Homo sapiens: one gene and its partners. The protein of the gene in region 1 purifies or fractionates together with the protein of each later gene. This does not show direct contact. Each region holds a gene or a part of one and is shown in the gene's direction. Other genes may lie near its edges.

Region 1 (7,606 bases):
TAGCAGAACATATAGAGCAAAATCACACAAAGGCAGCAGTGGCAGGCAGCACACTGAAAGAAATGCAGTGTAACTCATCTCGAATAACTTTTGTATACTTATACACGTAAAAACAGTTATTTCCTGTCCTGATTTCACCAATTTTAGCAGTCTAGAAAATGTGACTATACAACAGTAAATAAAAGTTAACATGATCAAAGAACTCAGGAGACAATTCTTTCCTTGTTCAATCTGCTGTCTCCCCAACCCCTGTCAAGATAAAGGAGAGGGAGGTGGACAGGTTATGGCTTTACCATTTATAATCAAACCACAGACCTGGGATAAGGGCCCTTCAATTCATCCTCCCAACTGTTTAAAACATGAACTCAGTGGAAGATGCCAGAAGCTTTCAAAAAGGAAATATTCCAGGAGGGTAAGGACGTGATCATCACAGCATCTTCAACCTTTGCCTTTTTGCCCTGAACCCAAAAATTACCGACTCCTATGAACTGGGAAAACAGCACATCTATTTGGAATAACACAGTTTTTTCATGTACTTCTGCATCCATTTTCTCTTTCAGATAAACCCTGTAAGGTTTACCAAACACAAGGACTGTCTGCACCTTTTAGTATCTGACATCTTCTTTCATCTCCCTGGTTGTTCTGACAGTGCAGTGGGTTTCCGCCTCAAATGCTGACAGGGAACACACAATACTGTTCCTACTGAAATAACATCCATCTAGTAACACTGTTTCTGAACACTGCCCCTCAACTTAGTCATACTGGGTGACTTCTAACTAACAGCATGAACCCCAGGGCTTCTGCTGGAGTAACAGTCACAATAGGGTCCAGGACAAGGTGGCTGCCATTGTTCACCTTTAGCCCAAAGAAGCAGGTGCCCCAGTTATGGATGGCTTTGTTCATTGAAGGGAGGAATTATGTATAATTGGAAATCCCATGCACCACCCTGACCCAGCTCTTGCCATCTCTCTTATACTTAGCCTACAGTGTTTGTTCAGTTGGTGCTGGTTAAATGCAGTGCTTCTCAATCTTGAGACCATCAGAATCATCTGTGAAACTTTCAAAAGACACAGGTTGAAAGATTTATTCAGTAGGCCTAAGAGTAGTGTCCCAGCCTTTCCAATTAAAAAAAAAAAATTCCACAGGTGATTCAGTTGAGAATCTCAGGTTTAAGAAAACTCTCTTTTCTAAACCACACTTCAACTAATTTATTTTATGTAAATAAATAATATAGCCAGATTTGGGGTTGGGGGAGAGAGGTAGCAAAGACTTTCTTCACCAGGACTCTAAGAGATTTAAATCCTAAATAGGAAACAGGCACTTCATTTTCAGTCTGACTGGAAAACAGTAATTTCTACCATTACAATTATCCTTCATAACCCAGCCATGTCCATGTTTATTAGATGTTTAAAAAAATTTTCTGTATCCTATGATATTTTGAAATCTTAATAAATCTTGCTGGCAGGGAGACTGCCTCTCCCAGGTCTAATTCCTCAAGACAGTAAACAACTTACTTGGGAGCATGCCTCTCACAGGCAAGTCAGCCTCCCCCCTTTATCTAACTCTCACACACCAAGCCAGTATTTCTCCTGCCCTAAATCATCCATGGCCAGGTACCAAGCAACTAGAGACCACCCAAAGGCAAAGCGTGATGGAATTATTTAAATTATCCAATCCTAAAATGTTTACTCCGCCCTGACTTGCTATTTCTGAGGAACCCCATAAAGGTTCTGGCCTAGACTTTCTCCTTGTTCCTATTTCTTCCTCCTAACCAAAAGCTGATGTCTCCCTTGTGGCTCTGAACGTGGTGGCACGCCTCCTTTTCTTGAGAAATGTAAGTAAATTATTTCAGGCCAGGCGCGGTGGCTCACACCAGTAATCCCAGCCCTTTGGGAGGTCCAGGCAGGAAGATCGCCCGCCTGATGTCAGGAGTTTGAGACCAGCCTGGCCAACATGGTGAAACCCCGTCTCTACTAGAAATACAAAAAATTACGCCGGGCGCGGTGGCTCACACCTGTAATCCCAGCACTCTGGGAGGCCAAGGCGGGCAGATCACGAGGTCAGGAAATCGAGACCATCCTGGCTAATATGGTGAAACCCCGTCTCTACTAAAAATACAAAAAATTAGCCAGGTGTGGTGGCGGGCGCCTGTAGTCCCAGGTATTCGGGAGACTGCGGCAGGAGAATGGCGTGAACCCGGGAAGCAGAGCTTGCAGTGAGCCGAGATCACACCACTGCATTCCAGCCTGGGCAACAGAGCGAGATTTTGTCCAAAAAAAAAAAAAAAAAAAAAAATTAGCCAGGCGCGGTTGCGGGCGCCTGTAATCCCAGCTACTCCGGAGGCTGAGGCAGGAGAATCGCTTGAACCAGGGAAGTGGAGGTTGCACACACCACTGCGCTCCAGCCTGGGCAACAAGAGCCAAACTCCGTCGAAAACGAAGCAAGGAAGGGAAGGAAGGAAAGAGAAATTATTTCAACAGCACTGGCCTCTCCATGTCGTCACTCAGTCTCCTCTATAAATTCAAGTCCCAAGACACCCTGCCCTACCCTTGCCTCTGGGCTGCTTATCATTCTTGTTCTGTCTTCTTTATCCAGTTGGAAACCATATTACAAACTAACTTAGATTTCCAAGCCAGAGAGCAAGTAAACACCTCCTAAATCCTTCATCAAGGAAAACCTCTTGGAAGGTTTTGAAGCTCAACATTCAGAATCAAATGTAGTCTTACCCAGTAATTCCACTCCTAGAACACAAAAACTTGTGTTATGAACACGAATGTTCATAGCAGCATTATTTCTAACAGCCAAAAAGTAAAAACATCCATATGCCCATCACCTGATACATGGATAAACAAAACATGGTCCATCCAAACACGTGATTATGCAGCCATGAAAAGGCATGCAGTACTGATTCATCTACATGGATGAAATCTTGAAAACATGCTTAATAAAAGCCCAGCAGAAAAAGCCAAGTATCACATGATCCCATTTACATAAAATGTACTGAATACGCAAAACCACAGAGACAGAAAGCCGATAAGTGATTGCCAGGGGATGGGGTCGGGGGAATTGCGGAGTGACTACGAATGGGTACGGCAGGTTCGATTTGGGGTTTTAAAACGTTCTGGAATTAGCGACGATGGCTGCAAATCCTGTGAACGTACTGGAAACCACTGAATGTACACTTCTAGTGTGCATTTTATGATACTGTATCTTTTAAAAAACATATTGTCTGCCCTGCAAACTGATTCCTTTACACCTCTCCTGTGTTCATTATTTCAGTGACTGGAGGCACACTACTCTCAGATGTTAAGGCCAGAAACCGGCAAATCGTTAACAACTGCGTCTTGACTATGCTCCATATTTCTCCATTCTTTTCGCTCCACCTCCTAATTCGGGCCGCTCTCACTTTTCATCTAGATTATGTAATAGCCTCCTAATGGGTGTCCTTGCCTCATCTGTTCTCACTGTAATTAGGCCTTTAAAAACAAAATCTTACGCCGGGCGTGGTGGCTCACGCCTGTAATCTCAGCGCTTTGGGAGGCCGAGGCGGGAGGATCTCTTGCGGCCAGGGCTCGAGACCAGCCTGGGCAACATAGTGAGACTCCCCCCCCCGCCCCCACCGCCCGTCTCTACTTAAAAAAAAAAAAAAAAAAAGCCGTGAGCGGTGGCTCACGCCTGTAATCCCACCACTTTGGGAGGCCGAGGCGGGCGGATCACCTGAGGTCAGGAGTTGGAGACCAGCCTGGGCAACAGAGTGAAACCTAGTCTCTACTAAAAACACAAAAATTAGCTGGGCGTGGTGACTGGCGCCTGTAATCCCAGCTACTTGGGAAGGTGAGGCACAAGAACCGCTCGAACCCGGGAGACAGAGGTTGCAGTGAGCCGAGATCGCGCCACTGCACCCCAGCCTGGGCAACAAGAGCAAAACCCCGTCTCAAAAAACAAACAACAAAAAACCTTCAATGGCTCCCGACGACCCCAAGTTGAAGCTCAAACCCTTAATACGATGTGTAAAGTCCCTCAAATACCAAGCCATGGCAAACCTCTGCTACCTTTCCCCCAGGCCCTGGCTGGCTTCACCCTAGCCCTGCGGAAGAGCTCGGGCATCCCCTCCAGGCACCTGAAGCGCGGCAGAATCCCCTCTTCACGTAGCTAACCCTCCCCGACCTCCAGGCCTCGACTCTCACGCCACCCCACCTGAGAGGAAGCTTCTCGGGCCCCCAGGCCAGATTTGGTGCCTCTCCCGGTCCCCCTCACACCGTCCACTCTCCGCTCCACAGGCAGGTATGCCCAGAGGGGGCCGCCGTTGTATCCGCGAACATTTCCTGAGCCAGCTGGGGAGGAACCAGACTTTATCTCACAGCTGCCACAGTGCCTTAAACTCGCCCTAACTCTTTCTCAAAAACTAACAGACTCCACCTGAAGCAAGCGCCGCTTCCGCCTCGCCCCGCCTCCTGCCGACCGGAAGCGCTGGCCGCCGCGGGCCCGCGCCCGGCGCCGCAGAGGAAGACCGGAAGCGAGGCTGCCGCACCACCGCGCGCGCCCGCTCTGCGCCTGCGCGCAGGCAATGCTCCGCGGGGGCGCGGGCGGCGCATGCGCAGGCGCGCGAGTCTCCGTTAAGAAGGTGCCGCGGCGGCGCCGGAGGTAGGAGGAGCCGGGCTGTGGGGCTGGGAGTCGGCACCCGGGAGGCGGAGGTCCTGTCATTTCGGGCCGTTCTCTCTTTCCTAAGGGAGAAGAGCCTTTCTCGCCCGTCTCCCTCGCTGGCTCCGTGGCCTCGGCAGGCCCGCAGCCCCGACGGAGAGGCAGGAGCCGCACTCGGGTGGAGAGGGGCCGGGGCCCGCCTGGAGGGAGGAGGGTGGCGGATCCGGATCCCCACGGTGGTCTCCGTCCGGGCCAGTCCGGGGATCGGGGTTCTCCGTCTGACTTTAGAGCCGTTAGAGTCTTTGGCAGCCCTTTTCCCAGACGGGGAACCCCTCAGCCCCTTTCCGTAGGTCGCCGGGTTGGGGGAAGCGGGAGGGTCCGCCCCTTACCGATCCATTCATTCATCCCTCGCCTGCTGTGAGCCGTGGGCTGCGGTAGGTACGAAGCAAGGAGGCACAAGTCCCCTTCCCTCTGGAAACCTGCAGGCTTGCAGGATCCGTTATGTCATTCAGTAAATCTTGACTGGGCACCTATAGGAGGAGATAGACTGTTGTGAGGTTCATATCAACAGAGATGCGGAGATCAACACAGTTGTGGAGGTGGAATTTGTTCCAGCCGCTCCCCGCATCCAACAGGATAAAATTCACTTTGCCTAGCCTGACCTTCCAGGCCCTTGTGAGCCAATCCTTTCCTCTCCCCGCAGCGTTTTCTCCTACACCTTTCTCTCTACTCCCATTATACCGAACTCTTTGCAATTCATGAATTCAACAAGTAGTTGTGGAGCACTTATTTCAAGTCAGGCACCAGATCAGCCAAAGAGGTTGCAAAGTAATAGATGGATCTCTACCCTCCTGAAGTGTTGAGCTTAATGGGGGACAGATAATAAGCCGATGAATAAAAACACAAGAGCGGATAGTTTCGAACCACACTTCCTGGGTTTGATCCCAGCCCTGCCACTGTGAAAGCTGTTCCTGAACTGGCTTTAGGCCAGTTCCTCATTCTGCTTGCGCGTGTTTCCTTGCCGTAAAGACAGGATGACAAGAGATTCCACCATATAGGCTTCTTGTAAGGATTAAACGAGTTTGACTTGGAAAGCAATTGGAACAGTGCTTGGCACACAGTAAGCATTCGATAGATATTACCTGTTTCATATGATGATAACCTATGACAGATGCCATTGTGAAAACAGTGGGCGATGATAGGGATTAACGGGGATGGAGACGGTCCATAAAGGATTAGAGGACACTTCTCTAAGGGGAAGACACAGAAGAGAATGCGCCAGCCATACAAAGTAGATTCTAGGTAGGAGTATTTTCAGCTCTGGAAAACAAAATGATTAATTAGATTCCTTGGACAGTGGAGATTGCATTATTGTATTTGAAAGGAATAACTTTCTGCCATTGGGTCATTCAGTTTTGATTTTTGAACCCCACTTAGCTGTGTGCCAAAGTAAACAACCATGCTCACGAGGCCCAGCCTTTGCACACAGGCGACATTCCAGTCATCCAGGTTTGGAGAGCCTTGCTGGGTTGAGAAGATAAGTAAAAGTGACCTTTTCTCTCCTGAGTGTTCATGAGAATATAATGTCTCTTTCTGTCTCTTATGTTGCAGTATTTACAGAAAGAGCCTCTTTAACAGCCAGGGGTCTTAGATCAGTGTAGGAGATAGTTTTCCTAGATTTGGGGATCATCCTGTTTCTGTGGTGACTGCCTTTTATGGGGTTTGCTCCCTAAATTTCAGTTAAGAAAACACTCTCCCAAGATGCACATATTTTAATACCTGTGGAAGAACAACATGCTTTGACAGGTTTCTAGGTCCTTTTGTTGTGATGTCTGATAGGACGGTTAGACCATGTTAACCAGGCTGGACTGAGTATTTGACAGTATTGTTACTCCGAAGACTTTTCCCTCACCCCACATGCCCTTGTCCCTCCCTGGAAGAACTGGCATAAAATGACAATGTCTGATTACACTTACATGCTTTTGGTTTTCCACAGATGTGTAATTAAGTGAACCATATATGTTTCATCATCATGGAGATCTTGGAGAATTATCTGAGCACCAGGTTCATATGTATTCGATCTCAGAGGCATCTATTGGACAACAAAACACTCTTTCAGTTGTGAACTTTATTTATTTATTATTATTATTTTTTGAGACAGAGTTTTGCTCTTGTTGCCCAGGTTAGAGTGCAGTGGCACGATCTCGGCTCACTGCAATCTCCGCCTCCCAGGTTCAAGCGATTCTCTTGCCTCTGCCTCCCGAGTAGCTGGGATTACAGGCATCTGCTACCACGCCTGGCCAATTTTTTGTATTTTCAGTTGAAACGAGGTTTCACCATATTGGCCAGGCTGGTCTCGAACTTCTGACCTCAGGTGATCCACCCCCCGCCTCGTCCTCCAAAAGAGCTGGGATTACAAGTGTGAGCCACCGCGCCCGGCCCAGTTGTGGACTTTAACAGAGGGAAGCTTTAAACATGTTTAACCACAGGCCCAATTTGAACAAAGATACTTCAATCATTATAGAGAGGAAAACAGTACTTTTTGTTCAATTGTGCAAACTCTCCAAGTATCTAATGGAGAAGTAGAGAAGAACCCTAATGAAACTGAGTGTGAATGAGGCTCAGCTAGGCTTCTACTTGGGTTCACTTTCTCATCTGTCTGCCTGTCCTGGGATTGACCCTCGCTCCTCTGAAGACCAGCCTGAAAGCCTTAAAACTGGTCAGATGATGGATGAGTCTGATGAGGACTTTAAAGAACTCTGCGCTAGCTTTTTCCAAAGGGTGAAAAAACATGGAATCAAGGAAGTGTCAGGAGAAAGGAAGACACAAAAGGCTGCCTCAAACGGCACTCAGATAAGAAGCAAATTGAAAAGGACCAAACAAACTGCTACCAAGACCAAAACCCTTCAAGGCCCTGCAGAGAAGAAACCTCCGTCTGGCAGCCAGGCCCCTAGGACTAAAAAGC
Region 2 (7,023 bases), on another chromosome or scaffold:
CTTGAGATGTGCTATAAGTATAAAATACACATTGAGGCCAGGTGCAGTGGCTCATGCCTGTAATCTCAGCACTTTGTGAGGCTGAGGCGGGCAGATTGCTTGAGCCCAGGACTTTGAGACCAGCCTGGGCAACATAGTGAAACCCTGTCTCTACAAAAAATATAAAAATTAGTCAGCGTGGTGGCATGCGTCTGTAGCCCCAGCTGCTGGAAAGGCTGAGGCAGGAGAATCACTTGAGCCTGGGAGGCGGAGGTTGCAGTGAGCCAAGACCATGTCACTGCACTCCAGCCTAGATGACAGAGGGAGACCCTCTCTCCAAAAAAAAAAAACCAGACACATTGGAGTCCAGAAACTAGGCCGAGCATGGTGGCAGAAACTCTCCCAAAGAGTTAAAATATCTCATTAATAATTTTTTATTTATAACACTGAAATGAAAATATTTGGGATATATTAGGATGAATAAAATAGAATTTTTAAATTACATGTGTCTGTTTCTTTTTATTTGTTTGTTTTTGAGAGAAAAAGAGAGTTTCCCTCTGTCGCCCAGGCTGGAGTGCAGTTGCGCAATCTTGGCTCACTGCATCCTCCATCTCCTGCGTTCAAACAATTCTCCTGCCTCAGCCTCCCGAGTAGCTAGGATTGATTGTAGGTGCATACCACCACACCCGGCTATTTTTTGTATGTTTATTAGAGACGGAGTTTCACCATGTTGGGCAGGCTGGTCTCGAACTCCTGACCTCAAGTGATCCGCCTGCCTCGGCCTCTCAAAGTGCTGGGAGGTGGGCTTGAGCCACCATGCCCGGCCCTGATTCTTTTTTTGTTAATTTGGCTGCTAGAAAATTTAAACTTACATATGTGGCATATGTGGCTTAAATTGTATTCATGTTAAATAGCACTGTTTTGGGATGAGGGGTCACTTATACTGGAATTCCTTATTCTCTGTCACTTTTGACCATCAAGAATTCCAAAGTCAGTTTGTTAATCACACTTTCAGAAATAACCTGATTTGGTGAATTGTTTCTCTTATATCCCCAGCCTTCATAAATCTTATTAGATAGTTTGACTCCTGTTGAATTCAATGCACTATTGATACAGCCCTTAAAGCATTAAAAATAATTATTCAAGGTGATTGAGAGTTAAAACATTGTAGTTTCAAATTAGCTAGTGCCTGATTGCACCCCCCAATAGGGCAATTTCAGGAAGCCAGAGGAAAATACAATGAACACTATAGAGGTTCTGTTTCTAAGAACAGAAGTTCTTAGAAAGTTCTCAGGTTAATGGAAAAGAAAAACACAGGACAATTTATGAAAAATATCATTTCCAAAAGACAGAACACAAATGTGTACCAAATAATAACATGCTTCTTGAATTGTACAGATTTAATACACAAATACTAAGAAAATGCAAAGGAATCATTGAAAAGTAAGATACAAGATAAATTCTGGAAATTGCTTGCTTTTTTTTTTTTTTTTGAGACGGGAGTCTCGCTTTGTTGCCCAGGCTGGAATGCAGTGGCACAATCTCGGCTCATTGCAACCTCTGCCTCCTGGGTTCAAGCGATTCTCGTGTCTCAGCCTCTGTAGTAGCTGGGATTATAGACGCCTGCCACCACACCTAGCTAATTTTTTGTATTTTTTGTGGAGGCAGGATTTCACCATGTTGACCAGGCTGGTCTCGAAATCCTGACCTCACATGAGCCATTGTCCCCAGCTGGAAATTGCTTTTAAGCAGATATTAAAGGTGGGAATTATCATAAATTATGAAGAGTATGACTTTTTCAAAAAAGCATGAAGTGAGTCGTTGTTTTCTCTAAAGTAGTGCCTTTTCCCCCAAGTCCGGAAATATTAGGACATGTTATTTCATATAGGAAGCAAAGTCTGGAAAGTAGTAGGATGTAATATCTCTTTTCTTTGTTGAAACAGTCGAGGACAGGAAGGAAAAACCTGCAGAGAAGTCAGCTGTATCCACTTCTGTACCTACAAAGCCAACAGAAAATATCTCAAAGGCCTCTTCATGTACCCCAGTGCCTGTGACCATGACAGCAACTCCACCTCTTCCAAAGCCTGTGAATACTTCTCTTTCCCCTTCCCCAGCATTGGCTTTGCCAAACCTGGCTAATGTGGATCTGGCAAAGATCAGTTCCATCCTTAGCAGTTTAACATCAGTCATGAAAAATACTGGTAAGTAAGCCCAGTAAGGAGGATAAAAAGTTAATTTCCATCTTTTTAAATTGAATCATTAATCTGTTTTTGGGGGGGTTGTTGTTGTTGTTGTTGTTGTTGTTTAGACAGAGTTTCGCTCTGTCTCCCAGGCAGGAGTGCAGTGGTGCAATCTTGGCTCACTGCAACCTCTGCCTCCCGGGTTCAAGTGTTCTGCTGCTTCAGCCTCCCAAGTAGCTGGGATTACAGGCACCTGCTACCACGCCCGGCTAATTTTTGTATTTTTAGTAGAGATGGGGTTTCACCATGTTGGCCAGGCTGGTCTTGAACTTCTGACCTCAGGTGATACACCCACCTCGGCCTCCCAAAGTGCTGGGATTATAGGCGTGAGTCACCGTGCCCAGTCTGTTGTTGATTTTTTTTAATTAATGATTTTTTTTTTTTTTTCTGAGACGGAGTTTCAGTCATGTTACCTAGGCTGGAGTGCAATGGTGCAAACTTCACTCACTGCAGCCTCCATCTCCCAGGTTCAAGCAATTCTGCCTTAGCCTCCCAAATAGCTGGGACTACAGGCATGTGCCACCATGCCCAGCTAATTTTGTATTTTTGGTAGAGACGGGGTTTCACCATGTTGGTCAGGCTGGTCTCAAACTCCTGACCTCAGGTGATCCACCCATCTTGGCCTCCCAAAGTGCTGGGATTACAGGCGTGAGCCAGCGCACCCAGCTAAATTAATTGTTAAATTAAAAAATAATCCAATAATCGGTCATTATAGAAAAATTAGAAAATAAGCAAAGAGAATGAAATAAATATCTAGGCCAGGCGTGGTGGCTCATGCCTGTAATCCCAGCACTTTGGGAGGCTGAGATGGTAGATTGCCTGAGGCCAGGAGTTCGAGACCAGCCTTGGCAATATAGTGAGACCCTATCTCTAAATAAAAAATTTTAAATGAAAAAAATTTTTTAATAAATATCTATAATCCTGTTACCCCAAAGGAAACCACTTGTGTTTACCCTTAAAAGTATATGTGTATATGAATGTTTTGGAGAATTAAATATGTATAACAATTTTTAAAAAAGTAAGTGTATTGCATATACTGTTTCAAAACTAGCTATTTAAAAGTTAATTACATATCTTGAATGTTTTTATGAATCATTAAATATTTCTCTACATCATTTTTAATAGCTGCATAGCATGTGGTAACTTATCTAATCCTTTATTATTAGGCACTTAGTATGTTTCCAGTTTTTTACTGTTATGAAGAATACTATAGGGCCAGGTGTGGTGGCTCACGCCACCACTTTGGGAGGTGGAGGCAGGTTGATCACTTGAGGCCAGGAGTTGGAGACAAACCTGGACAACATGGCGAAACCCCATCTCTACTTAAAAAAACAAAAATTATGGCCGAGCGTGGTGGCTCACACCTGTAATCCCAGCACTTTGGGAGGCCGAGGCGGGTGGATCACGAGGTCAAGAGATCGAGACCATCCTGGCCAACATGGTAAAACCCCGTCTCTACTAAAAATACAAAAAAATAGCCAGGCATGGTGGCGGGCGCCTGTAGTCCCAGCTGCTCGGGAGGCTAAGGCAGGAGAATGGCCTGAACCCAGGAGGCGGAGCTTGCAGTGAGCCAGGATCGCGCCACTGCACAGCCTGGGCGACAGAGCAATACTCCGTCTCAAAAAAAAACAAAAAACAAAAATTAGGCCAGGTTTGGTGGCTCACGCCTGTATTTCCAGCACTTTGGGAGGCCAAGGCAGGCGGATCACCTGAAGTCAGGAGTTCAAGACCAGCCTGGCCAACTTGGTGAAACCCTGTCTACTAAAAATACAAAAATTAGCTGGGCATGGTGGCATGCATCTGTAGTCCCAGCTACTTGGGAGGCTGAGGCAGGACAATCACTTGAACCTGGGAGGCGGGGGTTGCAGTGAGCCAAGATCACGCCACTGCACTTCAGCCTGGGCAACAGAGCAAGACTCCGTCTCAAAAAAAGAAAAAATTCGCCAGCTGTGGTGGCACGTACCTGTAATCCCAGCTACTCATAAGGCTGAGGCATAAGTATCATTTGAACCCAGAAGGCAGAGGTTGCAGTGATCCAGGATCAAGCCACTGCACTCCAGCCTGGTTGACAGAGCGAGACTCTTGTCTCAAAAAAAAACAAAAAACAAAAAAAAAACCTGTAAATTATAAAAATTTTATGAATAACCCTTTGCAAGGGTTAAGTATATAAAACCTTTTTAATGGAATTTTATTTTTATTTATTTATTTATTTATTTTGAGACAGTCTCACTCTGTCCCCCAGGCTGCTGGAGTGCAGTGGCGCGATCTCAGCTCACTGCAAGCTCCGCCTCCCAGGTCACGCCATTCTCCTGCCTCAGCCTCCTGAGTAGCTGGGACTACAGGTGCCTGCCACCACGCCCAGCTAATTTTTTGTATTTTTGGTAGAGACGGGCTTTTACCATGTTAGCCAGGATGGTCTCGATCTCCTGACCTCGTGATCTGCTCGCGTTGGCCTCCCAAAGTGCTGGGATTACAGGCGTGAGCCACCGCATCCGGCCATTTATTTATTTATTTTGAGACAAGGTCCCACTCCATCACCCAGGCTGGAGTGCAGGGGTGCAGTCATGGCTCACTGTAACCTCAAACTTCTGGGTTCAAGTGATCCTCCCACCTGAGCCTTTGAGTGGCTGAGATCACACGTGTGCACCACCACATCTGGCTAAGTTTTGTGGGTTTTTTGGTAGAGACAGTGTCTTACTATGTTGCCCAGGCTGATCTTGAACTCCTGGGCTCAAGTGTTCCTCCCATCTTGGCCTCCTAAAATGTTGGGATTACAATCATGAGCCACTGCACCCAGCCCGAAATTTTTTAAATAAATTTTGCCAGGCAAGGTGGGATACCGTGTAGTCCCAGCTACTCGGGAGGCAAATGCAGGAGGATCACTTGAAGCCAGGAATTCCAGGACGTGTAGTTCACTGTGATCACGCCTGTGAATGTCCACTGCACTCCAGCCTGAGCAACCCAGTGAGACCATATCTCAAAAACTAAATAAAAATAAAGTATTTTAATATATAACTAAATTGATATCCAAAAAAGTGCTATTTTATATGACTAATATATGAAAGCTTCTGTTGTTCCTTACCTTCTCCAGTTACTTGCCTTGTGCAGTCTACAAATCCAGCCTTAAAAAGTTGTTTAATTTCCATTTCTTCTATGAAAGATGTTAAAAATTTTTTTCCTTTGCTTCTCACTTAAGTTTCTTTGTGAAATATCTGTTCATATTTATCTTTTTTAAAATAACAAATGTTTTTCTCTTTATATATTTTATTTCCTGTGTTAAAGATCAACCCAGTGTTTTTAAATGTAAAAATATAAAGGAAATTTCTTAAATAATCTCATTTTAAAAGCTATTTCAAAAGCATATAACTTACCAGTCACATGAAATTATGCAGTGGCTGAGTTATACAACTGCAGTGGCTCTCAGCATCCAGTCAGCCAGCAGTATTTATTGAGCGCCTACAGGGCTCTGAACTGTAGGTGCCATTTGGTGGAGAAAAAAGATTGTCCAGGTGTGGTGGTACATGCCTGTAATTCCCAGCACTTTGAAAAGCCAAGGTGGGAGGATCACTGGAGGTCAAGAGTTGAAGACCACCCTGGGCAATGTAGCAAGACCCTGTCTCTATTTTTTAAAAATAAATAAGAAATATTGGGGCTCTCAAAACTATGAAAATCACTTAATACTTGTTTTTTTCAAGACAGAGTCTCACTGTGTCTCAACTCTTGTCTCACTGCAACCTCCACCTCCTGGGTTCAAATGATTCTCCTGCCTCAGCCTCCCGAGTAGCTGGGATTACAGGCGCCTGCCACCATACCCGGCTAATTTTTTATTTTTGGTAGGGACAGGGTTTCCCCATGTTGGTCAGGCTGGTCTCGAACTCCTGACCTCAGGTGATCCGCCTGCCTCGGCCTCCCAAAGTGCTGGGATTACAGGTGTGAGCCACCTCGCCCGGCCAATACTTGTTTGTTTTAATGGTGTTCCAAGTAAAAGGAGATAATCTTTTCAGGGTTTTTTTTTTTTTTTTTGTACATGTCATGTTATGATGGACCATTTGTGGATCAACCACAGAAGAATTCCTGTTAAATATATCAAACTCATTGAAGTGAGGGGAAGTATCGGAAATTGAAGTCATTTTGAATTGCATTTTCTTGAGTTCATCTTTCTGCCACCAGGGGTCAGTCCTGCATCAAGACCTTCTCCAGGAACGCCCACCAGCCCCAGCAACCTCACCAGTGGCCTGAAAACACCTGCACCTGCCACGACAACATCTCACAACCCTCTGGCAAATATCCTCTCCAAGGTGGAGATCACCCCAGAGAGCATTCTGTCTGCACTTTCCAAAACCCAGACACAGTCAGCCCCTGCACTGCAAGGTAACTGACATATGCCAGAGGGACTCGAATTGTGAATGTTTGTCTCTGGCTTAAATTAATCCTGGATTCCATTTCTGATGAATCCAGAGCCATAAAATGTATAACACAGTTAATTCATTATTCTTTTTATTTATTTATTTATTTATTTATTTAAAATTTTTGAGATGGAGTCTCACTCTGTTGCCTAGTTGGTGTGCAGTGGAGTGCTCTCGGCTCACTACAACCTCTGCCTCCTGGTTCAAGTGATTCTTCTGCCTCAGCCTCCCTAGCAGCTGGGATTACAGGCCCACACCACCATGTCTGGCTAATTTTTGTATTTTTAGTAGAGATGGGGTTTCTCCATGTTGGCCAGGCTGGTCTCAAACTCCTGGCCTCCCAAAGTGCTGGGATTATAGGCATGAGCCACCATGCCTGGTGGTCATTATCCTTTTTT
Region 3 (7,632 bases), on another chromosome or scaffold:
CGGATCACGAGGTCAGGAGATCGAGACCATCCTGGCTAACATGGTGAAACCCTGTCTCTACTAAAAAAAATACAAAAAATTAGCCGGGCGTGGTGGCGGGCGCCTGTAGTCCCAGCTACTTGGGAGGCTGAGGCGGTAGAATGGCGTGAACCTGGGAGGCAGAGCTTGCAGTGAGCCGAGATCGTGCCACTGCACTCCAGGCTGGGCAACAGAGTGAGACTCCGTCTCAAAAAAAAAAAAAAAAAAATTAGCAGGGCGTGGTGGCACGTGCCTGTAATCACAGCTACTCGGGAGGCTGAGGCAGGAGAACCGCTTGAACCTGGGAGGCAGAGGTTGCAGTGAGCCAAGATCGCTCCACTGCATTCCAGCCTGGCGACAGAGAAAGACTCCGTCTTAAAAAAAAAAAAAAAAATTAGCTGGGTGTGGTGATGCATGCCTGTAATCCCAGCTACTTGGGAGGCTGAGGCAGGAAAATCACTTGAACTGGGAAGGCAGAGGTTGCAGTGAGCCAAGATCGTGCCACTGCACCCCAGCCTGGGCAACAGAGTGAGACTCTGTCTCAAAAAAATAAATAAATAAAATAAAAAATAAAAATAGGGCTGGGTGCAGCGGCTCACGCCTGTAATCCTAGCACTTTTTGAGGCCGAGGCAGGCGGATTACTTGAGGTCAGGAGTTTGAAACCAGCCTGGCCAACATGATGAAACCCCCTCTCTACTAAGAAATAATAAAATAAAAATTAAAAACTTAAAAGGCTGAACATTGCCGTGTGCGTGGACTGCATTTTGCCTGTCCGTCTGTCCGTCAGTGGCTAGACTGTTTCCAGCTCCTGGATGCCGTGAAGGATGTGGCGGTGAAGACAGCGGCACTAATGCCTGCTCAAGTCCTGCTTGCCTTGGGTTTTCAAAGAACTGCTCTTTCAGTTCAGAATATTTAAGGTGGGGTCGTTCCCAAAGGAAGTTTAGGGCATTTGCAAAAGTAACAGATGCTCCTGCAATTGATGCAGAAGGTGACAATTCTGACTATCCCTCTAACTTGCCACTTCCCAGTGAGTCCCACCCCCTGCCATGATGGAGGATTAAGAACCTGGATCTCAGAACAGATTCTAGATTAGAATCCAGAGATGACAGTACTGACACCGCTTAGGGCTGCTTTGTGCCGGAACTCTTCTGAGAGCTGCAGCAGCCCTGAGGGAGGTGCCATTGTTTTCTCTACTCCACATGTGGGGGATGCAAGATGCCTCAGCTAGCAAGAGACAGTCCTGATTCAGAGGCAGTCAGCCAGGTCTTGAGCCACCATCTTCACCACCTCATCATAGGGCATCAGAGTGTCACGGCAAGGTCAAGAGAATTTGCTGGAGAAGATTTCACATCATGTATATGGCTTACCACAGCCCGCATCCGGTCAGTTCGCTGAACACACCTTTACGGAGTGCTGTCAGGCACACAGGGGAGAGCAGAGACCAGGAGTTTTTAGTTTCACACACTTAACAGTCATCAGAAAACAGGCTTTTTTTTTTTTTTTTTTTTTGAGACAGAGTCTCACTCTGTTGCCCAGGCTGGAGTGCGGTGGCATGATCTCAGCTCACTGCAGCCTCCCGTTTCCAAGTGATTCTCCTGGCTCAGCCTCCTGAGTAGCTGGGATTACCAGCGCGTGCCACTATGCCCTGCTAATTTTTTGTATTTTTAGTAGAGATGGGGTTTCACCATGTTGGCCAGGCTGGTCTCGAACTCCTGACCTCAAGTGATCCATCCGCCTGTCTCGGCCTCTCAAAGTGCTGGGATTATCGAGCATGAGCCACTGCGCCCGGCGTAAAAAATACATTAAAAAAAAATATTTTCTCCTGGGCTGGTCAGTTTCCACACAGAGGAATCCTTTAGTTCTTGTCAGGGCATTGGGGGAAGGATGGTGGTGGTAGCTGAGCAGGGAATGAGCCTAGTGGCCAACATTCTTGTGGCTATCTGGAGGAAAGGGGTTAGAGGTCCTACTCTTCCTTATGTGAACTCTGTATAATCCCATCTTTATTACTGCATCCCCAATCTGAGCTATGCTTGGTGTCCTGAAATCCAGAACCCTCCTGTTCAAGTCCCCTGGAATGGCCTTTCTCTAGTGCTCCACGGTGATGAAAGTGAGCTATTCCCCTGAACATGTGGGGGAGAAACGAAATGTGGAAGGCAACCTTTTCCTCTAAATGCTCCTGCTTTCAGCCCCACAGCTCTCAGACAGGAGGCTAATGCTGCCAACTCCCAGACTCTTCCAGACTCACTGGATTAAATGAACTTGCTTCCTGGTTTCCTTCCACATAGGCACTGGTGTTCCATATTCTCAGGTCGATAAAGATCTGATCTCCAGCTCTTGAACTTTTGTTAACTGATTTATCTGCTGTCATTTCTTCTTATGGATTCAACTATGTCCTTGTGGATTTTCCCTTGTTTTTTATTTTATTTTTTGAGATGGAGTCTTGCTCTGTCACCCAGGCTGGAGTGCAGTAGTGTGATCTCAGCTCACTGCAGCTTCTGCCTCCTGGATTCCAGCGATTCTCCTGCCTCAGCCTCCTGGGTAGCTGGGATTACAGGTATGTACCAGCTAATTTTTGTATTTTTAGTAGAGATGGGGTTTCACCATGTTGGCCAGGCTGGTCTCAAACTCCTGATCTCAGGTGATCTGCCCGCCTCGGCCTCCCAAAGTGCTGGGATTACAGGCATGAGCCACTGAGCCTGGCTGATTTTCTTTTTTTTGAGACAGAGTCTCTGTCACCCAGGCTGGAGTGCAGTGGCACCATCCTGGCTCACTGCAACCTCTGCCTCCCAGGTTCAAGCGATTATCCGGCCTTAGGCTCTCGAGTAGCAGGGACTACAGGCGCGCACCACCACGCCAGGCTTTTTTGTATTTCAGTAAAGACGGGGTTTCACCATGTTGGTCAGGCTGGTCTTGATCTCCTAACCTCGTGATCCGCCCACCTCAGCCTCCCAAAGTGCTGGGATTACAGGCGTGAGGCACTGCGCCCGGCCCAATTTTCCTTTATTTTTTTGAGACAGAGTCTCGCTCTGTCGCCCAGTCTGGAGTGCAGTGGCGCGATCTCGGCTCACTGCAAGCTCCGCCTCCCGGGTTCACGGCATTCTCCTGCCTCAGCCTCCCTAGTAGCTGGGACTACAAGCACCCGCCACCATGCCCTATTTTTTTTTTTTTTTTTTGTATTATTAGTAGAGACGGGTTTTCACCGTGTTAGCCAGGATGGTCTCGAGCTCCTGACCTCGTGATCCGCTCACCTAGGCCTCCCAAAGTGCTGGGATTACAGGCGTGAGCCACCACGCCCGGCCTTCCTTTTATTTTTATTTTTTAAATCTTCCTATCATTTTTAGTAAATGACCTGGAAGCAGCAGACCCAACTGGAAGCGTACAGGTTCAAGAAAGCCTGTTTAAGCAGAAGTCTCAGTATTTCTGTGGAACCATTCAGTTTTTTTATTTTTATTTTTTTGAGACATTGTTTCACTCTGTTGCCCAGGCTGGAGTGCAGTGAGGCAATCTCAGCTCACTGCAACCTCCGCTTCCTGGGTTCAAGCAACTCTCCTGCCTCAGCCTCCTGAGTAGCTGGTATTACAGGCTGGAGCCACCGTGCCCGGCTAATTTTTGTATTTTTAGTAGAGACCGGGTTTCACCATGTTGGCCAGGCTGGTCTCAAACTTCTGACCTCAGGTGATCCGCCTGTCTCGGCTTCCCAAAGTGTTGTGATTACACGCGTGAGCCACCGAGCCCAGGCCCAAGTGATTTTTAAATAGCTTAAATCAGATCATGTCATTTCCCAATTTTAAAATGGGCAGAGATGGTCCAGCAATCCCACTTCTGGGTACAGACGCAAAACAATCAATGAAAGAGAGATCTGCACGCAGCACTGTTCACGCTAGCGAGGAGATGGCAACAGGGCAAGCGTCCAGCAATGGGTAAGCGGTGGGGTCGGTGCACGCAGGCGTCCAGCAATGGGTAAGCGGTGGGGTCGGTCCACCCAGGGAGCGCTGGTCCCCCTGGAAGGAAACCCAGGCTCTAACGCGGTCCCTCTGAGGACCCTGCTAGGCGAAACGCGCCGGCCATAGAAAGACTGTCCCGCAGGAGAGGGCGGTGTTCGGCCCGGGGTTTGAGGGGTCGGGACCAGGAGGAGGGACAGCCCGGCCGAACCTGAACGCACTTCAGGCCGCTTGAACAGCACACGCAGGAACTGCGCCGACGGAAAACTTTACTTCGTGTTCCGCCACCAAAAAAATATCGTTTAAACAAACCTGCGGCAGCTTCCCAGCTCCCTTAAACCAGGATCCCAAGTTCTCCGCGTCTCCGCCCCTGCACCCAGCCTCCGGCCTCGGCAGGCGCTTCCGGTGCGGAACCTTCTGGAAAGTACCGCGCCGCCCTCCCGGCGTCCCCACAACCCCGCCCGCACCTGCGCGCACCGGCGCTCGCGAGCACAAGTGACGGGACTGGAGCGTGGCGCGGCAGGTGGCTCCACGAAAACGCCCCTTCGCGCAAGGCTGCCCCGCGTCCTGCCGCGCCCCAGGAGGCGGGACTTCCGCCCCCGCCGCCCGGAAGCGGCAGCCGGGGGAAGCGTGTTCCTCGCGGAGCGCCGTCGGGGCCGTGGGCGCCTGCGCGGGCCGGCGCGGGAGCAAGCGGCATGGCGTTCCGGCAGGCGCTGCAGCTGGCGGCCTGCGGGCTGGCCGGGGGCTCGGCCGCCGTGCTCTTCTCGGCCGTGGCGGTAGGGAAGCCGCGCGCAGGCGGGGACGCGGAGCCACGCCCGGCTGAGCCGCCGGCCTGGGCGGGGGGCGCGCGGCCGGGCCCCGGTGTCTGGGACCCCAACTGGGACAGGTGCGCGCGGGGCTGTTTGGGGCCGGGGTCGGGATGGGGGTCAGGGCAGGTGTTACCGTTGGGATCGAGATCGGGACCAGGTTTAAGGTTGCGATCGGGTCGGGATCTGGGGTCGCCGTCTGCTTTCCCCAGCGGAGGAGCCGCTTTCCGGGGCCGCTCTGCGCGGAGGGTTCCGGGGGCGGCTGACCCTTCCCGCCGGCTTCTGTGGCCGAGCTCCGTCGCGTCCTCGCCCTTCTCCCCGCCCCTGCGAGTCCGCCCTGGGTGCCATCGCCGGAGCGCGGGCCGGGGCGAGGCTGAGGTGGAAGCCGGGCCTCCTTCAGGGGCGTTTGCAGGAGCGCGCCCGCGAGCTGCGTGCGGTTATTGAGCGTTTGAAATATGGCTCGTGTGATTCCTGAAGGGAATGCTTAGTTTACGTCAATTTAAACTTAACGCAAGCAGGGCCGGGTGCGGTAGCTCAGGCCTGTAATCCCAGCGTTTGGGAGGCTGAGGCCGGAGGATCGCTTGAGAAATTTGAAACCAGCCTGGGCAACATAGTGAGACCCCCATCTCTACAAAAAATACAAAAAAAATTGGCCGAGCGAGGTGGCGCGCGCCTGTGGTCCCAGCTACTCGGGAGGCTGAGGTAGGAGGATCCCTTGAGTCCAGGGGTCCCAGGCTGCACAGTGTGAGCCGAGATCCCGCCACTTCACTCCAGCCTGAGCAACAGAGCCTGTCTCAAAGGAAAAAAAAAAAAAGTAGTGCAGGTTTTTAACATTAGTTATGTGTTGAAATAGTATTTTTAGCATATTGAATTAAAAGTATGATCGAAATTCACCTGTTTCTTTTTAATGTTGCTATTAGAAAATGTATAATTTCACATGTTGCTGGCATTCTGTTTCTGTCGGCCAGGACTGCTCTAGCGGCAAGGATGGTTTTCCCAGTCCTAACTCCTCATTATACTCAGTACTTTGAGAAAGGGGGCACAGAATTATACTACTGTGGTTGCGTTAGGTACTTTATATTAGATTTTTATCTTTTGTTAACCTTATTTCCTCTATTATTAGCATCATACACTAAGCATGGTGTATATATCAAAATTAATGAGCCAAAATAATATAGATTAATTATAGTTATTATATTAGTTTATAATACATTACTGTTAACTAAGGTTCATGTTTCATTGAGATTTCCTCAGCTTTTACCTGCTGTTCTGTTCTAGGGTCCCACATGACAAGTAGTCTTCATGCCTCCGTAGGCATGTTTTGGCTGTGACAATTTCTCAGACTTGTTTTGATGATCATGAGTGTTTGAGGCGTCCTGGTCAGGGGTTTGGTAGAAGGTCCCTCAATTGAGACTTCTCTGAAGGTTTTCTCATGATTAGACTGGAGTTACATTCTTTTTCCTTCTTTTCTTTTTTCTTTTTCCTTGAGACGGAGTTTCGCTCTTGTTGCCCAGGCTGGAGTGCAATGGTGCAATCTCGGCTCACTGCAACCTCCGCCTCCCGGGTTCAAGCAATTCTCCTGCCTCAGCCTCCCGAGTAGCTGGGATTACAGGCACGCGCCATTATGCCCAGCTAATTTTGTATTTTTAGTAGAGACGGGGTTTCTCCATGTCGGTCAGGCTGGTCTTGAACTCCCAACCTTAGGTGATCCTCCCACCTCGGCCTCCCAAAGTGCTGGGATTACAGGCATGAGCCACCATGCCCAGCCTGTTATATTCTTTTTTAAAAATCAGAATTCTGAAAAATCAGAAATTCTGAATCAATATTCTGAATTTCTTAGGTCTTTTTAAGGAAACAGATTTACTCTGCCGTTAAAGAACTTGAAGTAGGCTGGGTGCGGTGGCTCACACCTGTAATCCCAGCATTTTGAGAGGCTGAGGTGGGCGGATCACTTGAGGTCAGGAGTTCGAGACCAGCCTGACCAACACGGTGACACTCTGTATTTACTAAAAATACAAAAAAATTAGCCAGGCATGGTGGCATGCACCTGTAGTCCTAGCTACTTGGGAGGCTGAGGCAGGACAATCACTTGAGCCCAGGAGGTGGAGGCTGCAGTGAGCCCAGATCGTGCCACTGCACTCCAGCCTGGGTGATAGAGTGAAACTCTGTCTCAAAAAAGAAAAAAAAGAACTTGAAGTAGAACCGGGAGCTGAGCCCAGCCTTTCTCTTTTAAGCAGGTGTTCTGTATTTGCTTGTCATGTCTGGGGAGAAGTGAATTGGGCCTTGTGGGTTGGGAAAGACTTATACAGACAGAAGGCATGAGCAACTACAGGAAGGTGCTAGAAGACAGCATGTTTCTTCTTGAGTCTCACCTGTCCACACTTGAAAGTTCCAGAGCCTCATCTGGTGAAATCTCCAGCTTCTTCCTGGAGGTCTCATGCAGTTTACGGCTTCCTGTCTCTGTGCCTATAGCTCCCAAATATTTTCTCTGGCTCAGCCTGACTCCCCCATACCTGCCAATTTGAGTCTTGGCCTGGTTTATGACAGGCCCCCAGGTCGGCGTGGCCCAAACGGAGCCCTTGAGTCACCACCGTGCCCTTCCACAGCTTCCTTTTCCGCCACTGTCTCAGCGAGTAAATACCAGCAGGTTCGACTTTTGCTATTCCCAGCTCTGCCGCGTTGAACTTTTTTTGTTGCTGTTGAGACAGGGTCTCGCTCTGTTGCCCAGGCTGGAGTGCAGTGCAGTGCAGTGGCAAGATCATGGCTCCCTCCTAGGCTCAAGCAATTCTCCCACCTCAGCCTCCTGAGTAGCCGGGACTACAGCTGTGGACCACCTTGCCCGGCTAATTTTTTAATGTTTTTGTAG
Region 4 (7,023 bases), on another chromosome or scaffold:
TTCTTTGCGGATTATAAAGTACTATGCAACTTATGAGTACATTGGAATTCTTTTGGTTTGGCAAGACCAGGATTGAAAGGCTAATTATGTTACAGTAGGCTTTTTTTGTTTGTTTGTTTGTTTTTGTTTTTGTTTTTTGGAGACAGAGTCTTGTTCTGTTGCCCAGGCTTTAGTGCAGTGGCACAAGCTCAGCCCACTGCAACTTCTGCTTCCTTGGTTCAAGTGATTCTTGTGCCTTAGCCTCCTGAGTAGCTGGGATTACAGATGTATATACACACCCGGCTGATTTTTTTATTTTTAGTAGAGAAAGGGTTTCTCGATGTTGGCCAGGCTGGGCTGGTCTTGAACTCCTGCACTCAAGTGATCCTCCCACCTCAGCCTCCCAAAATATTGGGCTTATAGATGTAAGCAGTAAGGCAGTTTTCAGTGAAAGGGGCTTTTGAAGTTTATTTCTTTTCTTTTCTTTTTTTTTTTCTTTTGTTATAGGGTCTCACTCTGTCGCCCAGGCTGGAGTGCAGTGACGTGATCTCAGCTCACTGCAACCTCCGCCTCCTGGGTTCAAGCAATTCTCTTGCCTCAGCCTCCCTAGAGACTGGGACTGCAGGTGCCCGCCACTGCACCCGACTAATTTTTGTATTTTTAGTAGAGACGGGGTTTCACCATGTTGGCCAGGCTGGTCTCGAACTCCTGACCTCAGGTGATCCACCCCCGCTCGGCCTCCTCTGAAGTGCTGGCATTACAGGCGTGAGCCACTGTGCCTGGCCTGAAGTTTATTTCTTTTGATAGCTTGCATTGTTTGATTTGCTTTTGTGTGTGAGTGTTTAATGTATAGTATCTCTGAGAAATTATATAGTCATCTTTATTTTTTTCTTGTAATGATTTGCTGATTTCTCTACAGTGGTCATCAACTTTGGTAAAGAATTGGTGAATGTTACAAAATGTAATTTTGTAAGACTGGTGGTCTTTTCCTTCTTAACTCATTTAAACTTTTCTCTTTTTTGTAGCTTGGCTGCAGAATTGTTGGTCCTCAAGTAGTCATATTTTGTATGCACCACCAGCGATGTGTCCCAAGAGCCGAACATCCAGTTTATAATATGGTTATGTCTGATGTAACCATATCTTGTACAAGTCTGGAAAAAGAAAAAAGGGTAGATATTGATCTCATGATGATTGATCAATTTATATATCTATCTCTTATTCTTAATTTTTCACTGCATAGAAGATAGCTTAAAAGACTTTCCGCTTATTGTTCGTGACTTTTAACAAAGTTCAGTATACAACCACAGTGTGTATATATGTATACATGTACATTTTTTAAGTAAATTGAATATAGTAGAATTTGTTTTGTTGAAAACTGGCTAATTGAAATTTTTTGTTTTAATTTAAAAGGACACTCATTTTTTAATCACTTACATTTTTCCACTATAGGTGGACAGTCTTTAAAAAAAAGGATTCTAAATCGTTTGAATCAGGGAGGTGGAGGTTGCAGTGAGCCAACATCACGCCACTGCACTGCAGCCTGGGTGACAGAGCAAGATTTCGTTTTGGAAAAAAAAAAAAAAAAGCATTCTAAGAGAGAGCTATAGAAATACATATATATATTTGGGACAGGGTCTTACTGTCACCCACGCTGGAGTGCAGTGGCACAATCACAACTCACTGCAACCTTGATTTCCTGGGCTCAAGTAATCTTCATGCCTCAGCCTCCCGAGTAGCTGGAATTACAGGCATGCACCACCAAGCCTGGCTAAAAATAAATATTTATATATTATATAGATATAATTTATGTTGTTAAAAATACACATGTATATTTATATAGAAGCAAAGATTAAGATTTATACATCCTTTGTATAATAGTTTAATACATTCATGGAGTTGAAAGGGATAAATATAGGAAAATAATATTTTAAAAATATAATTCATACTTATCTCCCAAAAAATAATTTGGTTAATTATTTAACTTTATAATGTTATGTAACACTTATGTATTCAAACTGTCAACAGCAAAATGTATTTATGAGATAGTGTATAAAAGTGGAAGCAATATTGTTTGCTTCAGCATTAATGTGTTCTCTTTTGGGGCTGCAGGAAGAAGTTCATAAATATGTACAAATGATGGGCGGACGAGTATACAGAGACCTTAATGTATCAGTAACTCACCTTATTGCAGGAGAAGTTGGTAGCAAAAAATATTTAGTTGCTGCAAACCTGAAGAAACCTATTTTGCTTCCCTCTTGGATAAAAACACTTTGGGAGAAGTCACAAGAGAAGTAAGAAAGACATTTTTATATTTTCTAGATTTGAAAAAATGATGCATTCAATCATTTTTGGCATGTGATATACTCTTTGGACTTACTATTCAGGGAAAAAAATAGTGTCATTACTCTTTTCTCCAGCGAAAACGGAAGAGCAGAATCTACAAGCTCTTATTACCAAGATATAAGTTGACAGGCATAGAATGGGCCAAGGGTTTAGCATTAGCTACAGAGTAGGAAATGCTTTGGTGATAAAGTTCTCAGCTGTAAATATTTCTGAAATAATTGAGAAAACGAGTTTGGCAATTCTGTAGCTTTTATGTTGCATTATCCTTCAACACCATTCCCATATGTTAAGATAGATAATAAATTAGTCATTTTGGCAGTTGCATTCCTTCCAAAAGATGGCATATGTAAGGTTGAATATAAACATATGCAAGTCATCAGCTGAGATGTGATCATTTAATAAATGCTAATTGAGCCCATTTTACGTATCTGACTTGAGGTAGGCATTAGGTATATGTAGTAAGCAAAACAAGATAGTCACTTCCCTCATGGAGCTTAGAGCCTATTTCAAGGGGCACACTTCAGTTTCCCCTGCAACTAGATAAACAACCACAAGACCAAACACCACAGAATTGTATTGGCATACGAATTATATCGGCACTTTTCTGGGCTTGTTTTCAACACCATCCAGCATATCCCAAATATGTCTCCATGTCAGCAACTCTCATTCCCAATGTGATTACTTCATCAGCACACCTCCCTAGCATGGCAACAGAATAATGATATTTTTGTTGGTATTTTGCCAAAAATCATTGCTTTTACTTGTATAGAATAATGGAAAGATTAAAAAGTTCATTTATCTAATAGGCAACCAAATTACCTTTGGGTTTTTAAGTAGAGATTCAGACTTATCATTTTGGAAAATATACTATGACCAGCAAGGGCTAGAGTTAAGGAAATATATATTTTTCCCTTAAAATGGTTTTGAGAGACTGTATCTGAAACAATTACTTTGTTTTAGAGACATGTTATTGAACTAGGTGAACAATTAGTGTAATTCTGTTTTGGTGGTTCTCCTTTGTAAAAAAAAGATTATAAATCCTAAAAAATGAGGGAAGCAATAGTGATATTTGTGTTGTTTTTCATTATTCTTCTGGTAAATTTAATATGTTCTTTTTTAACCATTTGATTCCCACAGAAAAATAACTAGATATACTGATATAAACATGGAAGATTTCAAGTGTCCTATTTTTCTTGGTTGCATAATCTGTGTGACTGGCTTATGTGGCTTAGACAGGAAAGAAGTTCAGCAACTCACAGTTAAGCATGGAGGTCAATACATGGGACAATTGAAAATGAATGAATGTACACACCTCATTGTGCAAGAACCAAAAGGTAAAACTGTGTTTCACAAAGGGACAAATGAAACATTTTCTCTAGTATTTAATATTTTATTTTTATTTATTTATTTATTTATTTTGAGACAGAGTCTTGCTCTATTGCCCAGGCTGGAGGGCAGTGGCACAATCTCAGCTCACTGCAACCTCTGCCTCCCTTGATCAAGCGATTCTCCCAACTCAGCTTCCCGAGTAGCGGGATTACAGGCACCTGCCACCACGCCTGAATAACTTTTTATTTTTAGTAGAGACGGGCTTTCACCATGTTGGCCAGACTGGTCTCTAACTGACCTCAATTGATCTTCCCACCTCAACCTCCCAAAGTCCTGGGATTACAGGCATGAGCCACCGTGCCCAGCCACTAATATTTAATATTTTAAAATCTTTACAGAACAGCTTTTACTTCTGACATGTCATTAATCTAGTTTGATACTGTTTTCTCTAACATCTTGCAAAGATGTTTTCTCTAACATCTTGCAAAGTTTTAACTGGAAGACACACCTTGCGGCACATGAGGCAGTAAAAAATGAAAAAGACATTACGAACAAGAAAAATTCTTTAAAATTGCTATTAAGTTTGGTGTTACATAACATTATTCTGGATAATTTTTTATCAGCACTCTTAAAATATACACAAATTGATAAAAGATGAGTTTTGTTAATGTTTTTATTATTGCCCTTTATATGTATACTGTGTTTTACTAAGCTATCTAGATTGAGAAGAAATTACGATTAAATGGTAATTGTCCTTAAGTCAGAACTTTGAGTATGGCTGATTGTGATAGGATCACTGTGAGTAGAGTTGATACTGCTGTTCTTTTTCTGAATCTGAAGACAGTTCATTGTTGATTCTCTCAAGAATGCCAAAAAACCTTTCATGTGACATATTGACCTCAATTCCTCTGTGATACTGCTTCAAAATACATTGTGTTGAAGATTTTTAAGGTAATAAAAGATACATATTTTCAATATAATTTATCTTTTGGCTTATCTATCCTGGACTTTAAGTAGAAGCCTGTTGACATTGGAATAGTCTGTTCAAAGTTGGGATTTATTATATAGCACAAATTTACAATTTTCACATTGTACAAGCTGGTTTAAAGAAATTAAGTGATGGAGCCTATATGCAAACCCAAGTCCAATATTAATTAAGTTACCCCACAGTTGCTTCTGTCTTCCTGCAGTTTGTATAAAAGATAAAACCTCTCACATGGCATATGTATTTATACTACACATAGAAAATATAATTAGGCAATAAGCTAAAATACTACTTTGTAATAAACTGTGTAGCATACTGTTTAAGAGTAAGTACTGGTAACTTTAATTTTGTTGATAGGTTTTTGAAATAACCTGTTATAGCCGGGCGCGGTTGCTCACGCTTGTAATCCCAGCATTTTGGGAGGCCAAGGCAGGCGAATCACCTGAGGTCAGGAGTTTGAGACCAGCCTAGCCAACATGGTGAAACCCCGTGTCTACTAAAAATACAAAAAAATTAGCCAGACATGGTGGCACACGTCTGTAATCCTAGCTATTCAGGAGGCTGAGGCAGGAGAATCGCTTGATCAGGAGGGAGGTGGAGGTTGCAGTGAGCCAAGATCTCACCACTGTACTCCAGCCTGGGCAACAGAGTGAGACTCCATCTCAAAAAAAAAAAAAAAATATTAACCTGTTATAATTTGAATATTTCTGCAAAGATAGATTGTAATGGTTTTCATTTCTTGGTTTCTCCTATTTTCTCTATTTCTTTCTTAATGAACGCCACAGGTCAGAAGTATGAGTGTGCCAAGAGATGGAATGTACACTGTGTGACCACACAGTGGTTTTTTGACAGTATTGAGAAAGGTTTTTGTCAGGATGAATCCATATACAAGACAGAACCTAGACCAGAAGCAAAGACTATGCCCAATTCTTCAACTCCTACCAGCCAGATCAACACAATTGATAGTGAGTCTCATTGAGATTAAAATAATTATTCTGAAGACAGTCATATTTCTATGTAATAATCAGTATGTTAATAGGATCACTGAGATAGGGAATTTCTTTTTCTTGTTTGCTGTGCTTCTAGGCATAATTGTATAATAGTCAAATTGTATAAAAAGTTAGCACTGAACTGTTCGTAATTTTCTTTTAGAATGAATGAATGCTGTCTTTTATACTCTGTTGTAATGCAAAAGATGATCAAAGAAATTAAGAACAATGGTAGCTGGGGGCTTAAGATAAAAGTATTAATCTTTTAAACATTACATGCATATATTAATCTTTCCTTAATTTACAGTTTTGCTGCAGTTATAGATCATCTGTATTTGTATAAAAATTAAAACCATTTCTATTTTGTAGGTGTCGTGTTGGCAAAATGTTTAAAATATTTTTTCAAATGTAAGCTTCTTGGACCTTAAAGTCAGCAACTTCAGATTTTTATGGGAAACAAGACACTATTAAGAAAATGTGTTAAATCTATTTTCATTTAAATAAGATAGGAGGCTTAATTAATTTCATTTTCCCTTTTTATACTTTGCCACTAAGATTTCAGTAAACACCCCTGAATCTTACTTTGGAAGTTGTTTATTGCCCTATATTTGTAAGAAAAGTTAATCCATAGACAATATGTAATCATGATTATTTTATCTCCCATAAATTTATACGTTTTCAAAATATGTAGGTCGTACTCTTTCAGATGTCAGCAATATTTCCAACATAAATGCAAGTTGCGTAAGTGAATCAATATGTAATTCACTTAACAGCAAACTGGAGCCTACACTTGAAAATCTAGAAAATCTGGATGTCAGTGCATTTCAAGCACCTGAAGATTTATTAGATGGTTGTCGGGTACGTCTTTATTATATAATACATGCAGTAGATGATATACATTAGCATTTCCTAGCCTGACTTTGAAGACCCTTCAGAGTTGGGCTTGCTCCTTACTATCTATGTAAACCCTCCACTCTAGCTAAGTAGATGCACTTACTAGACCATGTCCATCCTTTGGCTGCGAGAGTCCCTCTGCCTGCAAGGTATCTTCCTCTGTTATCTTTTAAAAGTTCATTTCAGGTTTTAACTCTTCTCTGAACCCTCCTAACTACATTAATCTTTTCATCTGCTATATTTCGAGAGCACTTAGTTTCTGAACAACTTATTGGATTTTTTTTTTTTAATTTTTTTGAGTTAGGGTCTCACTCTGTTGCCCAGGCTGGGATGCAGTGGCACAATCATAACTTCCTGTAACCTTGAACTCCTGGGCATCAGCCACCCCTCAGTCTCCCGAGCAGTTAGAACTACAGGCATGTGCCACTACACCTGGCTAATTTTTAAAATTTTTTTGTAGAGACAAGGTCTCACTATGTTGCCCAGGTTTGGACTTTAAACTAT

Evidence for each region.
Region 2: the proteins of SLX4 (region 1) and RPRD2 purify together in Homo sapiens (affinity purification with mass spectrometry, with the first as the bait; 2 studies listed by BioGRID). This does not show direct contact.
Region 3: the proteins of SLX4 (region 1) and PGAM5 purify together in Homo sapiens (affinity purification with mass spectrometry; 4 studies listed by BioGRID and IntAct, with this or other methods). This does not show direct contact.
Region 4: the proteins of SLX4 (region 1) and TOPBP1 purify together in Homo sapiens (affinity purification with mass spectrometry; 3 studies listed by BioGRID, with this or other methods). This does not show direct contact.

Annotation. Positions count from the first base shown.
Region 1 is NC_000016.10:3,608,598-3,616,203, reverse strand, and holds the start of SLX4 (structure-specific endonuclease subunit SLX4), read left to right. Parts: upstream 1-4,597; 5' UTR 4,598-4,644; exon of another isoform or gene 4,645-5,075; intron 5,076-6,637; 5' UTR 6,638-7,239; coding exon 7,240-7,606. UniProt on the Homo sapiens protein: Regulatory subunit that interacts with and increases the activity of different structure-specific endonucleases.
Region 2 is NC_000001.11:150,458,138-150,465,160, forward strand, and holds part of RPRD2 (regulation of nuclear pre-mRNA domain-containing protein 2), read left to right. Parts: intron 1-1,922; coding exon 1,923-2,180; intron 2,181-6,389; coding exon 6,390-6,590; intron 6,591-7,023.
Region 3 is NC_000012.12:132,706,222-132,713,853, forward strand, and holds the start of PGAM5 (serine/threonine-protein phosphatase PGAM5, mitochondrial), read left to right. Parts: upstream 1-4,620; 5' UTR 4,621-4,655; coding exon 4,656-4,846; intron 4,847-7,632. UniProt on the Homo sapiens protein: Mitochondrial serine/threonine phosphatase that dephosphorylates various substrates and thus plays a role in different biological processes including cellular senescence or mitophagy. Modulates cellular senescence by regulating mitochondrial dynamics.
Region 4 is NC_000003.12:133,651,923-133,658,945, reverse strand, and holds part of TOPBP1 (DNA topoisomerase 2-binding protein 1), read left to right. Parts: intron 1-1,004; coding exon 1,005-1,148; intron 1,149-2,088; coding exon 2,089-2,270; intron 2,271-3,459; coding exon 3,460-3,656; intron 3,657-5,421; coding exon 5,422-5,601; intron 5,602-6,316; coding exon 6,317-6,483; intron 6,484-7,023. UniProt on the Homo sapiens protein: Scaffold protein that acts as a key protein-protein adapter in DNA replication and DNA repair. Composed of multiple BRCT domains, which specifically recognize and bind phosphorylated proteins, bringing proteins together into functional combinations.